Regions from separate parts of the Homo sapiens genome. Here region 2 is linked to region 1. Evidence: fine-mapped QTL for protein levels in blood plasma. Region 1 holds a variant in brackets. A gene starts in the other region. All regions are shown on their forward strands.

Region 1 (8,000 bases):
AGGCTATCAAAGTTTGCACAGTGAATGTTCTGGAAAAGTACCTGGGGAGAACTAAACACCCTAAGAGCTCTGGCAATCCCATCTCACATGCCTCTATGCTCTCTTTAGCTCCAAGGAGCTACCTGACATGTCAATATTTTCATAATTCAAAAATATATAGGAACGCCCACCATGTGAACAAAACAGACAAAACGTTCCTGCCCTCATGCTGCTCACATTGTTTTTTCAGTCTTAATCCCCCACCCCGCCCAAAAAAACCCCAAAATACTCAGAACTTGCATGTGTTCAGAAGATACCACCTGGGCAACACAGAGGTCTGATGAGATTTTCAACTGTGGGTATAAATTGGAAACCAATTCACTAGTACTTGTATTGCGTACCAGGACTGTGTATCTGTGAGACCTCACGGGTGATGCCACAGTTTAGAAGCACTCCGTTAAGAGGTAATATCCAGTGATCAAGGCAAATGCTTTGTTTCCTTTTTAAAAGAGGATAAAATAAACTGGACTTTTTTGTGTCTGTTTTAATGTGTATCCCTTGAATTTGTGCAAAACCCAGCCATGACAGCTTTGTCAAAATGAATTACTGCTGAAACAGTATACTCAGGGAATTTCTAAATGTCACAAGGCACATAGACTACAAGTATTTATTGATCATTTATTATGTAAATAGCATTTCTGGGTGATATAAAATTCACACTGGAGAGGGACACGAAATATAAATGGCTTTTATAGCTCAGCTGGAGCAGTAGGCAGATGTAACCAGTGTGGCTTTCAAACATCATAGCAATGCTACAAAAACCACAGCTGTCCTGGTGAGCACACGAACAGCTCACAAGCCTCTGGTCTCCCTATCCTCTTATGCTCCGAGAGGCCTTCAATCCTAAAGAAGCCAAATCCCAAACAACACTTCCCTTTGGATTTACATGATTGTTCTCAAACCTGGAGAGACATTAGAATCACCTGAAAATCATTTTTAAAAGATGCTGCAGCCTCATCACTCTCTGGAGATGGGAGATGAGGTTGGAACTCAAGCTTCTATAGTTTTAAAAGCTTCCCAGGTGATTCTGATGCATAGCAAGGTTGGAAACCACTGGGCTATACCTTAGAAGGGAAAGAGAACAACTAGTTAAAAGTTACAAAATATGAAGGCTCAGTAGAACAGAAAAAGTACAAGAAAACTATTTCATTAGGAAACATTCAAAGAGCATTAAGGTATATGTTATTTCTTACCCATCTGACTGTGTTCTTAGCTCAAGGACTTTGAACCTTTGTCTTCCAATTGCTTTCACTTTCACTATCTCAATTCCAAAATCCTGTTCTTCTCGATAGGCATATATCTCTGCTGTTGTTCCAAACTGTGCTTCCCTTTCCTGTACATTGCTTCCAAGAAAATTTTAAAAGGAAAGAATTTTGAACATTTGAGTTTTAAATATATGCAAAGTAGGCAAAGCAATAAATACAGGTAAACAATTTATAGAATCAACCCTTACTACAAAGCTAGGATAATTTTATTTATTTATTTATTTGTTTGAGATGGAGTCTCGCTGCGTTGCCCAGACTAGAGAGCAGTGGCATGAGCTCGGCTTGCTGCAGCCTCTGCCTCCCAGGTTCAAGTGATTCTCCTGCCCCAGCTGCCTGAGTAGCTGGGATTACAGGCACATACCACCACGCCTGGCTAATTTTTGTATTTTTAGTAGAGACGGGGTTTCACCATGTTGGTCAGGCTGGTCTCAAACTCCCGACCTCAGGTGATCCACCCGCCTCGGCCTCCCAAAGTGCTGGGAGTATAGGCGTGAGCTACCATGCCCGGCCAATTTTATTTATTTTTAAATCACATGGGGGATATACAAGAAGGACTCAGGAAGTACAATTAGAGAACTTTAGGAAAATAATAGATTTCTAGTCACTGAAAATAATTTAGAACTTACAGGGGTTTAAACTCATTTCCCAAACCAAACATTCTTTCACTCTGTCAAATGACTTATCATTTCTGCTGCTTACTGGCAGCACTGTACTGGGGTGGGAGCTTCCTGTATGTATTTCCTGCCTCTACCGCAGATTTCCTTTATTTGCCATGGGATACTTAAAATTCAGCTTCAATTTAAAGTGGTACAACCTATGAATTTTGAGAGAGAGGGAAAGAAAAGACCACTCTTTTGGAAAAGTAATCCTTTACGTTAAAATAAAAAAGCACTACTTCTCTATAATGAAGACAGTTATTGAAACTAAGATTCCAGAAATGTTTTTCATCAAATATAAATGATTAAAAATTTTTCAAATACCAGAAAGTTAAATTGTGTATGAAGGTGAAGAGCTGAGTTAGATGGTAATGAAATGAACAAAAATACTCCAACTTGCACTATCAAACTTCTACTTAACCAAATTCCTAACCTCACATTCTTACCCAACCTCTCCTGTACATGCGAAATAACAGCCTGCTTTGGCTTCAACACTGACCACTGCAATTACCCATGAGAGGGAATGTATTAAGCAAATGGACTCTAATATTTTACCTGTATGCAAGAACAGCAAAGGTTCTATCTTTCTGAATTAAATTCCGCACCATACTGACTTCTTGAGGGTGAAAAAGCTGAAGAGGTAATGTCTGTCCGGGAATCAGGATCATCATCACTTGTGGAAGAACTGGAATCACCTGACAGCTGTCGTCATCGTGCAAAGTCCTGCCATGAAATTCTTCCATATCAGCACCTAGGTACTATATAAAAACATATATAGGTATAGTGTCATGATCGATATGTAATAAAAATGTAAGCTCAACAGACTAAAGAGCAAATCACATTAAAAGAAATACAGGCCGGGCACAGTGGCTCACACCTGTAATTCCAGCACTTTGGGAGGCCGAGGTAGGCGGATCACCTGAGGTCAGGAGTTCAAGACCAACCTGGCCAACATGGTGGAACCCTGTTGCTACTAAAAATACAAAAATTAGCCAGGTGTGGTGGTGGACACCTGTAATCCCAGCTAATCGGGAGGCTGAGGCAGGGGAATCACTTGAACCTGGAAGGTGGAGGCTGCAGTGAGCTGAGATTGTGCCACTGCACTCACTCGAGCTTGGGCGACAGAGCAACACTCTGTCTCAAAAAAAAAGAAAAAAATACAAATGGGGTTACAAACACTTAATAAACGTGGTATATAAGCATCCCATGTTAAAATATAATTTTTAATCTAACTTTAACTCTTAGAAGAATTTCTAATCTTTTATGAATATATCACAAACACAGAAATTCAAGAATTTTTTTAGTACAAAGTATTATTTTTACCAAGAAATATCTCTATGCCCACATATCACAAACAGTAAGTATAAAATGTTAGTATGTTCAATAACACTCTAGTACCTAGAAGTACAGAGAAGTATTTAATAGCTCAATTACCAGAAAGAGTATAAAGAGCAACAATTCCTCAAACAATTCTACCACAACATAGTATTAAGCTTCTTAAAAATTACAGTTAAATGTTTATCTACTGGCAAATAGCCCATGTCCTCATCCACAATTTCTGATATCTAGTAATACAAATATCAGTCACTTGTTTTTATGAACTTTTATCTACATTTAAATGTATATCTATTATATTAGATCTGTCACTAAATTACATACTGTATGTGATGTCGGCAGACTGGTGTCAAAATTTATGATGTTTGGTTTTTTGGCTTCTTTACTATCCTGGTCTTCAACTTCCATTT[C/T]ATCTTCTTCCTCACTCTCTGCTATAAAAGTAGAATATTGTAAGAAAAAAAAAAAGATGAATGAAAACCTTTCAAACATGTAATTCCTTCTTCAAAAGAGGGGTACTTCTAAAACCACATGCATTTGGTAAACTCTACAGCACCGTGAAGAGGGAGCCAGAGGACTGGGGTCCGTGCTGGGCTCTGTCAGTAGCTATTTTTTTTTTTTAAGTCAACTGTGAATTTTAGAATAGTTTAACATTTACAGAGAAGTGTAAAGATAGTACAGAATGCTCCCGTGTGTCACACATCCTTTTCCCCTATAGTTAATTTATATTAGTATGGTACATTTGCCACAACGAAGGAATCAGTCTTGGTACATTACTCTAACTAAGCTTCATATTTTAAATGGATTCCCTTAGTTTTTATCTAGTCTTTTTGCGTTCCAGGATCCCACTTTACATTTAGTTATCAGGTCCCCCTACCCTCCTCTGGGCTAGGGGGGTTTTCAGACTTTGCTTGTTTCTGAGTTTTGAGGAGTACTGGTCAGGCCTTTTGTAGAGTATCCCTCAACTGGGTTTTGTTTGATGTAATTCCCATGATTAGACTGAGGATACGTGTTTTAGGGAGGAAGACCACAGAAGTGAAGTGTTGTTATTCTTTTCCTTTTTAGAAATGGGGTCTGTTGCCAATGTGCTGTTTTTATTACATATCCAGCCTATATATTATGAACTATTCCTGCTGTTAACCTTGATCACCTGGCTACAGCAGTGTGTGTCAGGTTTTTCCGCTGTAAAGTTCCTTTCCCCCCTCCTTTTCACATTGTACCCTTCGGAAGCAAATCACTAGGTGTAGCCTCCACTTCAGGGGTGATGAGTTATGCTCCACTCCCTTGAAGAGGAAATGTAAGTTATTTAAAATTCTTCTATATGGGAGATTTTTCTCTTCTCCCTCACCAGTAACTAATTTTAACACCTTAGACAACTCATTCTGCCCAATTAAATTTTAGTTTCCTCATCTGCAAAATGATAGGCTTCAACAAGTCAACCTCTAACGTTCTCTCAAACTCTCAACTTCAATCAGTTCCTACATAAGTAAGAAAAGAAACAAAGCAGGCAAGATCTGTTAATTAAAACTGAGAGAAAGATAACCTAGCAGGAAGAATTTCACAGCATTTTTCTAGTGACAACATTTCCCTGGCAGTCGCTACATTATCTTAAAATGAAGGCCAGGTGTGGTGGCTCACACCTGTAATCCCAGCACTTTGGGAGGACGAGGCAGGCAGATCACTTGAGGTCAGGAGTTCAAGACCAGCCTGGCCAACATGTTGCAACCCCATCTCTACTAAAAACACAAAAGTTAGCCGGGTGTGGTTGTAGGTGCCTGTAATCCCAGCTACTGGGGAGGCTGAGGCAGGAGAATCGCTTGAACCCAGGAGGTGGAGGTTGCAGTGAGCTGAGATTGTGCTATTGCACTCCAGCCTGGGCGACAGAGCAAGACTCCATCTCAAAAGAAAGAAACAAAGAAAATTTTGCAATCATTTGCATACTATTTTGCTTAATTTTAAATTTAAAAATAAAGTTTGCATGAAGCATAAAACATTTTAAAAGAATGTCTTAGAAAACCAGATGTTACCAATGACAGCAAAGAAAATTAGAAAACGCTACACAATACATATGCTATTGTACTAACTGTGAGTCTGTCCTTTTCATACAAACTATGAGTAAATTTCCTATCCTAGACCAGTGACTCTCAACCACAGGTGATTTTGCCCCTCAGGGGATATTGGTTGCAATAACTAAGGGAGTCCTACTGGCATCTAGTGGGTAGAGGCCAGGGATGCAGCTAAATATCCTACAATGCACGAGACAATCCCACCCAAAGAATTCTCCAGCCCAAAAGTCCAGTGCTGAGGTTGGGAGACCCTGGCCTAGACTAACAATAAAGAATTACTGAATCTCATTTCTCACCTCCCAGTTCATGTATTTTTAAATGCCCCAAATAAACTTCTAAATCGATAAAATGTCATTACGAAATAATCATTTGTTTTCCTTTGCATATCATTATTTAAGTCAAACCACCTCTAGCCAGGCCCCTGACAGAAAATAAAAATGATTTTCAATATGGTAACTGCCTTGGACTTTCTATTTATTATTACAACTTCCTAGATATAAAACTTTGTCAAAAACAGAATTACTTCAACTTATATGTAAATAGCCAATGGTCTAACACTTCATACAAATTTTCCTTGGAACATGTAAGTTTCACTGAGATAAAAAAAGAGCTATCTAAATGGATGACAAAAATATTCTGCATCAAATTGTTTGTATTTCCAACTCTGACAGTATGGCTATCACTTGGCATGCAGCACAACCCACTTTATTGCTCTACTACAGAAAGTTTAAAAGATAAACTATTAGCTCAAAGGCTGGAATTAATATTGTTAAAAATTTACATTTTAACTGTTCTGACTCCTAGTCTCTAAATAATTTCTTTAGTAACCTTTTTTTCATAAATATGGCTAAAAACCACTTTCCCCTACTCAGTTATGTTTATTAATGTTTCATTTGCCTAGGATAAACTCTTCACATCTCAAATATAAAGCTTTTTGTTGGAACTTAGAGGATTTACTCTTCAGAACAACTCGTACTACATGGAATTATGGAAAGCCCAGTGTTTCCCTACAAATAAAATTTACGTAATTTGGAGAGGCATTATTGCTATATCTACACCATCTCTGGGCCCTCTCCCGACGCTTTTCTGAAAAACAAAAAACAAAACAAAACAAACAAAAAAAAAACAAACAAAAAACCACGCTGACTGTTCAGAGCTATCAGTGAAGTCTGATGACTCATCTCATGCAGAGGCACGATGTGAATGTCGACAGAAGATCAGTATCCTCCCTCTTCTATTCACCATTCTCCCTGAAACACCGGATTTGGCACAGAGAGTAGGGCTAATGTCTCTGAAAAAATAGCTCAGCTTTCCATCAAAGGCTGGCACACTTACCCTTGTGTCAACTCAGCTAGAATGGCTTCGAGAACAACCAGTGACTATGGTTTATTTTTACAGAAAAGTTCTCTCCTATATGGTGGGCACGCACTCAGTCTCTTCCTCTTTTAATCCATGCTGCTACCAGTGGACAAATTAATCTTCCAAGCATAGATTTCTTTAGGCAATTACCTGAAACCTAAAACTGTTTCTTGGCAATCCACAGGAAAAACCCAAACCCACTGGCAAGAGATGCCAGTTTCCCAGCAACTTAGACCCAATATACCTCCTAGGCCTTATGTCCCACAACCATATCCTAAATATGTGCTTTTAGATGTCTCCTGATCTACCTGAAAGGCTTTTTCCCAAATCCTCTGACCCTTAAACAACCTCTGCCTCTGAAGAGCCACAACAGCATTCATTTATCTGGCCCTAAATCAACCGCCTCTGCAGTTGATTTACGTTTAGTTATATTCTCAGCAGCCCCGCCTAGACAGTAAACCTCAATTATCAGATTGTGTATTACCTCTCGTTTCATCTCCACAACACCTAACATACTTGTCATATAACGAAGGGACTCAAGTAATACTTTCAAGTTTGGATGATACACCTTTTGGAAAGCATCTCTTGAAAGGCATTCCATGAAAAGTTTATGCAATATTCCATGCATTTTTTTTTTTGTTCAGTATTTCAACACAAGGCCAAAGTCTAAACATTTCACACAACATACAGGAAAAAGAAAAACTAAGTATCTCTGATTAAGCATAATCGTACATGCCTGAGAAAGACCGATAGTAAGAAAAACAAAACAGAGAAGTGGTTTAGAGATATAATGACAGACACACCCGGGTTGGAATCCTGACTCTGCTGTGTGACCTTGGGCAAGTCATTGAACTAATCTGCAAATCCAATACTCGCTTATCAAATCGGAAACTGAAAACTGATGTGGGAAGGATTAAAAGGCGACATGCATGCAAAGCGTTAACTGCACGGCTCGTAACATGGTAAGTGCTTAGTACATGTTAGCTGTCACTCTTATTAAAAGGAAGGAGACCAGCAAAAGTAACCGCTGTGAATCTGACCCGGTCCTCTAGTTTCAGAGCATTTCCTAGGAGCTAAACTCAGAACACAAGGAGGATGGAGAGGATGGGTTTCCTGTTCTTAATAGCAAATGCTCCCCCCGACACCCTGGCTCACGGCTCGGGGCAACAGAGCAGCGAAGAAAGCGCCGCGACTCCATCGCTGGCCGAGGGCCGACGTGAAGCAGCTTTCCGGTGCGGCCCTGCTGGGCTGGCTCGCCAGGCTTGGCGCCCCCACGCCCGCCT
Region 2 (2,057 bases), not on the chromosome of region 1:
GCCCGGCCTTCTGACAGCCAGCCCCGCTCCTTCAAGTGCAGTACCTGAGCACCGGCCGATAATCCACGCCAAAGAGCTGCTGCTGCCGCTGGAGGTGGTTGGGAGTGTCGATGGGTACCAGGCGGGCTCCGCCCTCCGCCGGGCGGCACACCAGCAGCCAGCCTTCCTGCAGCCCGCAGTCGCCCAGGTGCTCTGCCAGCTGCTCCTGCCGGGACGCGTAGGATGGGGACAGCCGTCAGGGAACTGCCCAGCCGCCTGTCGTGCCCAGCCCAGGGCAAAGGGCGCCGAACGCAATGCCAACTCAATACAGGGGAGAAAAGGCAAACAGCCAGAGGTTTCTCTGGCCCCAGGGGTCTTTTACCGGGTCCTGGGCAGGGAAGAGCGCACCTTTGTCAGCTTCACCCAGAGCCCGTGGCCATTGCACAGCTCCTCGCCCGTGGTGCGCACGCAGGCGCCGCGCCGGAGCTCAATGCTGTCGCGGGCGGCGCGGAGGGGCCCGGAGCCGGTACCGGGGGCTGGGCCTGCGGCGCCCACACGCAGCCCCAGGCCCTCTGCCTCCCACACCGGCAGAAGCACGCGCGACGGTCCCGCTGGGTCCTTGTAAAGCTTGTAGAGCACCTCTCGCGGCACGAAAGCCAGCGCTGCTGGCAGCGGCCGCCCGGCGCGGAGGCTCCGCGCTGCCTCTGCCAAGAAGCGCACGCGGCCCAGCAGCTGCCGGGGGGACTCCAGCACCGCGCCCGGGCCAGGACCCGCCATGGCGAAGTGGCGGAGGTGAGCACCTAGAGGCGACCCTGCCCGGGGAACAGCTGGCGCGACCGCGGACAGAGCTTCCCACCACGCCCTTCCCCGCCTTTGGCCAGCCTTTGCCGTATGTTCTGGACTAAGCGCACCCCAGCTCTCACTGTATTGGACTGTGTACTCCCACACTCAACCATATTACTTATCTCTGTGCCACCCTAACCCAGCCGACCAAACCCAAGATTGGTGATTGCTACCTGATCAATCTCCCTCTCTCCATTTCCTTGTGACTACCATTTTATCTCTACTGCTACTACCCTCATTCAAGTCACCATTCTAGCTAGCCTGGGTCATTGCCAACAGTCATTTTTCTGGTTCTTCGGCCTGCTGTTTTTCCTCCCACTCCCAGCGAATCTGCTGGACTCCCTATCCTATGGGTGGTGTGATTAAAGTGTTTGAGACAATGGCCCCTTCCCCTGCCACTGACAGGAGTCTTGAGTCATTAGGGTTGATTCTGTTTGTCACTCCTAATCCCAAGGACACTGGAGATCATTATTCATTTTAATGTGATTGCTGATTTCTGTTTCCCCAGTCTTGTAGCTCCTTAAAGGCTGGGGCTGTCTTGAGCAGAGCTAACCTCTGCACCTACTATAGGTCCAGGCTATAGTATGGACCTGGCTGGATAAGACTGTTGGTATCATGAGTGGGACTTGCGCCAAGCCTCCGGATACCCAGACTGTCAGATGAGAACAAATTCCTCATGTCACCGTAAGATACATTTACAGCGGAGTTTTCTTTTGGGCCTTTGTTGTTGCGTCGCTACAGCAAACTTTACGGTGAAAAAAGGTAGGGGTCCTACGGGCAGCAGCCAGGGCAGCCCTGGAGCTGTCGCTGGAGTCCGATCATGTGATCTTCAACATGGCGACGCTCTTGGTTCCCTACAGAAAGGGGCGGAGCCTGGACTGGGGGGCAGGCTCAGATTCAGGTTAAATTGTGGATTGAGCTCGCAGTTACAGACAGCTGACCATGGAAGCGAATGGGTTGGGGTGAGTTCTCCAGAGCACGCGGTGTGGCTAGCCGGGCTTCTAATTTGAGTCTTCCAACTCAGGACTCTATCCCTCTACTCCCCTTTCCCCACCCTGGAGACCTCCCAACCTGAACTCCGTTAGCTGGGATCCTGAATCCTAAAACCATGGATTTTTGAGATGTTCATCCCAGGGCCTTAATTCAAGGGATGCCTCAGGATTTCCAACCAGGATCTCTATTCTGGGACCATCAACTCTGATCCCTCTTTATCCCCCAGCCTGGGTATTTCTCAG

Which allele goes with the higher level. Alleles are on the strand shown, and positions count from the first base shown. The strength of an association depends on the size of the effect and on how common the allele is.
As copies of T replace C in region 1, the plasma level of the protein whose gene starts at base 1,753 in region 2 goes up (weak association).

What was found. PIP is the chance, under the fine-mapping model, that this variant and not a neighbour inherited with it causes the effect. Protein levels are from antibody-based Olink assays in UK Biobank. Linkage for the fine-mapping came from a reference panel and not from the study's own genotypes, which makes the PIPs less certain.
Region 2: it holds the start of UROD, and the variant in region 1 is fine-mapped to the plasma level of the UROD protein (UK Biobank, PIP above 0.99).

The regions. Positions count from the first base shown.
Region 1 is chr3:3,171,544-3,179,543 of GRCh38, forward strand. It overlaps CRBN (cereblon), which reads right to left. Exons shown (of 11, transcript NM_016302.4): 2 at 3,620-3,726; 3 at 2,516-2,718; 4 at 1,233-1,382. Among named protein-coding and RNA genes, the nearest start is that of CRBN, 4.1 kb to the right of the region's middle. The variant C/T (reference allele first, on the strand shown) is at 3,706.
Region 2 is chr1:45,010,502-45,012,558 of GRCh38, forward strand. It overlaps UROD (uroporphyrinogen decarboxylase), which reads left to right and starts at 1,753. Exons shown (of 10, transcript NM_000374.5): 1 at 1,753-1,784. The coding sequence starts at 1,765. HECTD3 (HECT domain E3 ubiquitin protein ligase 3) reads right to left here and starts at 823. Exons shown (of 21, transcript NM_024602.6): 1 at 388-823; 2 at 45-205. The coding sequence starts at 756. RefSeq lists silencers at 490-659, 740-869 and enhancers at 1,630-1,679, 1,720-1,849.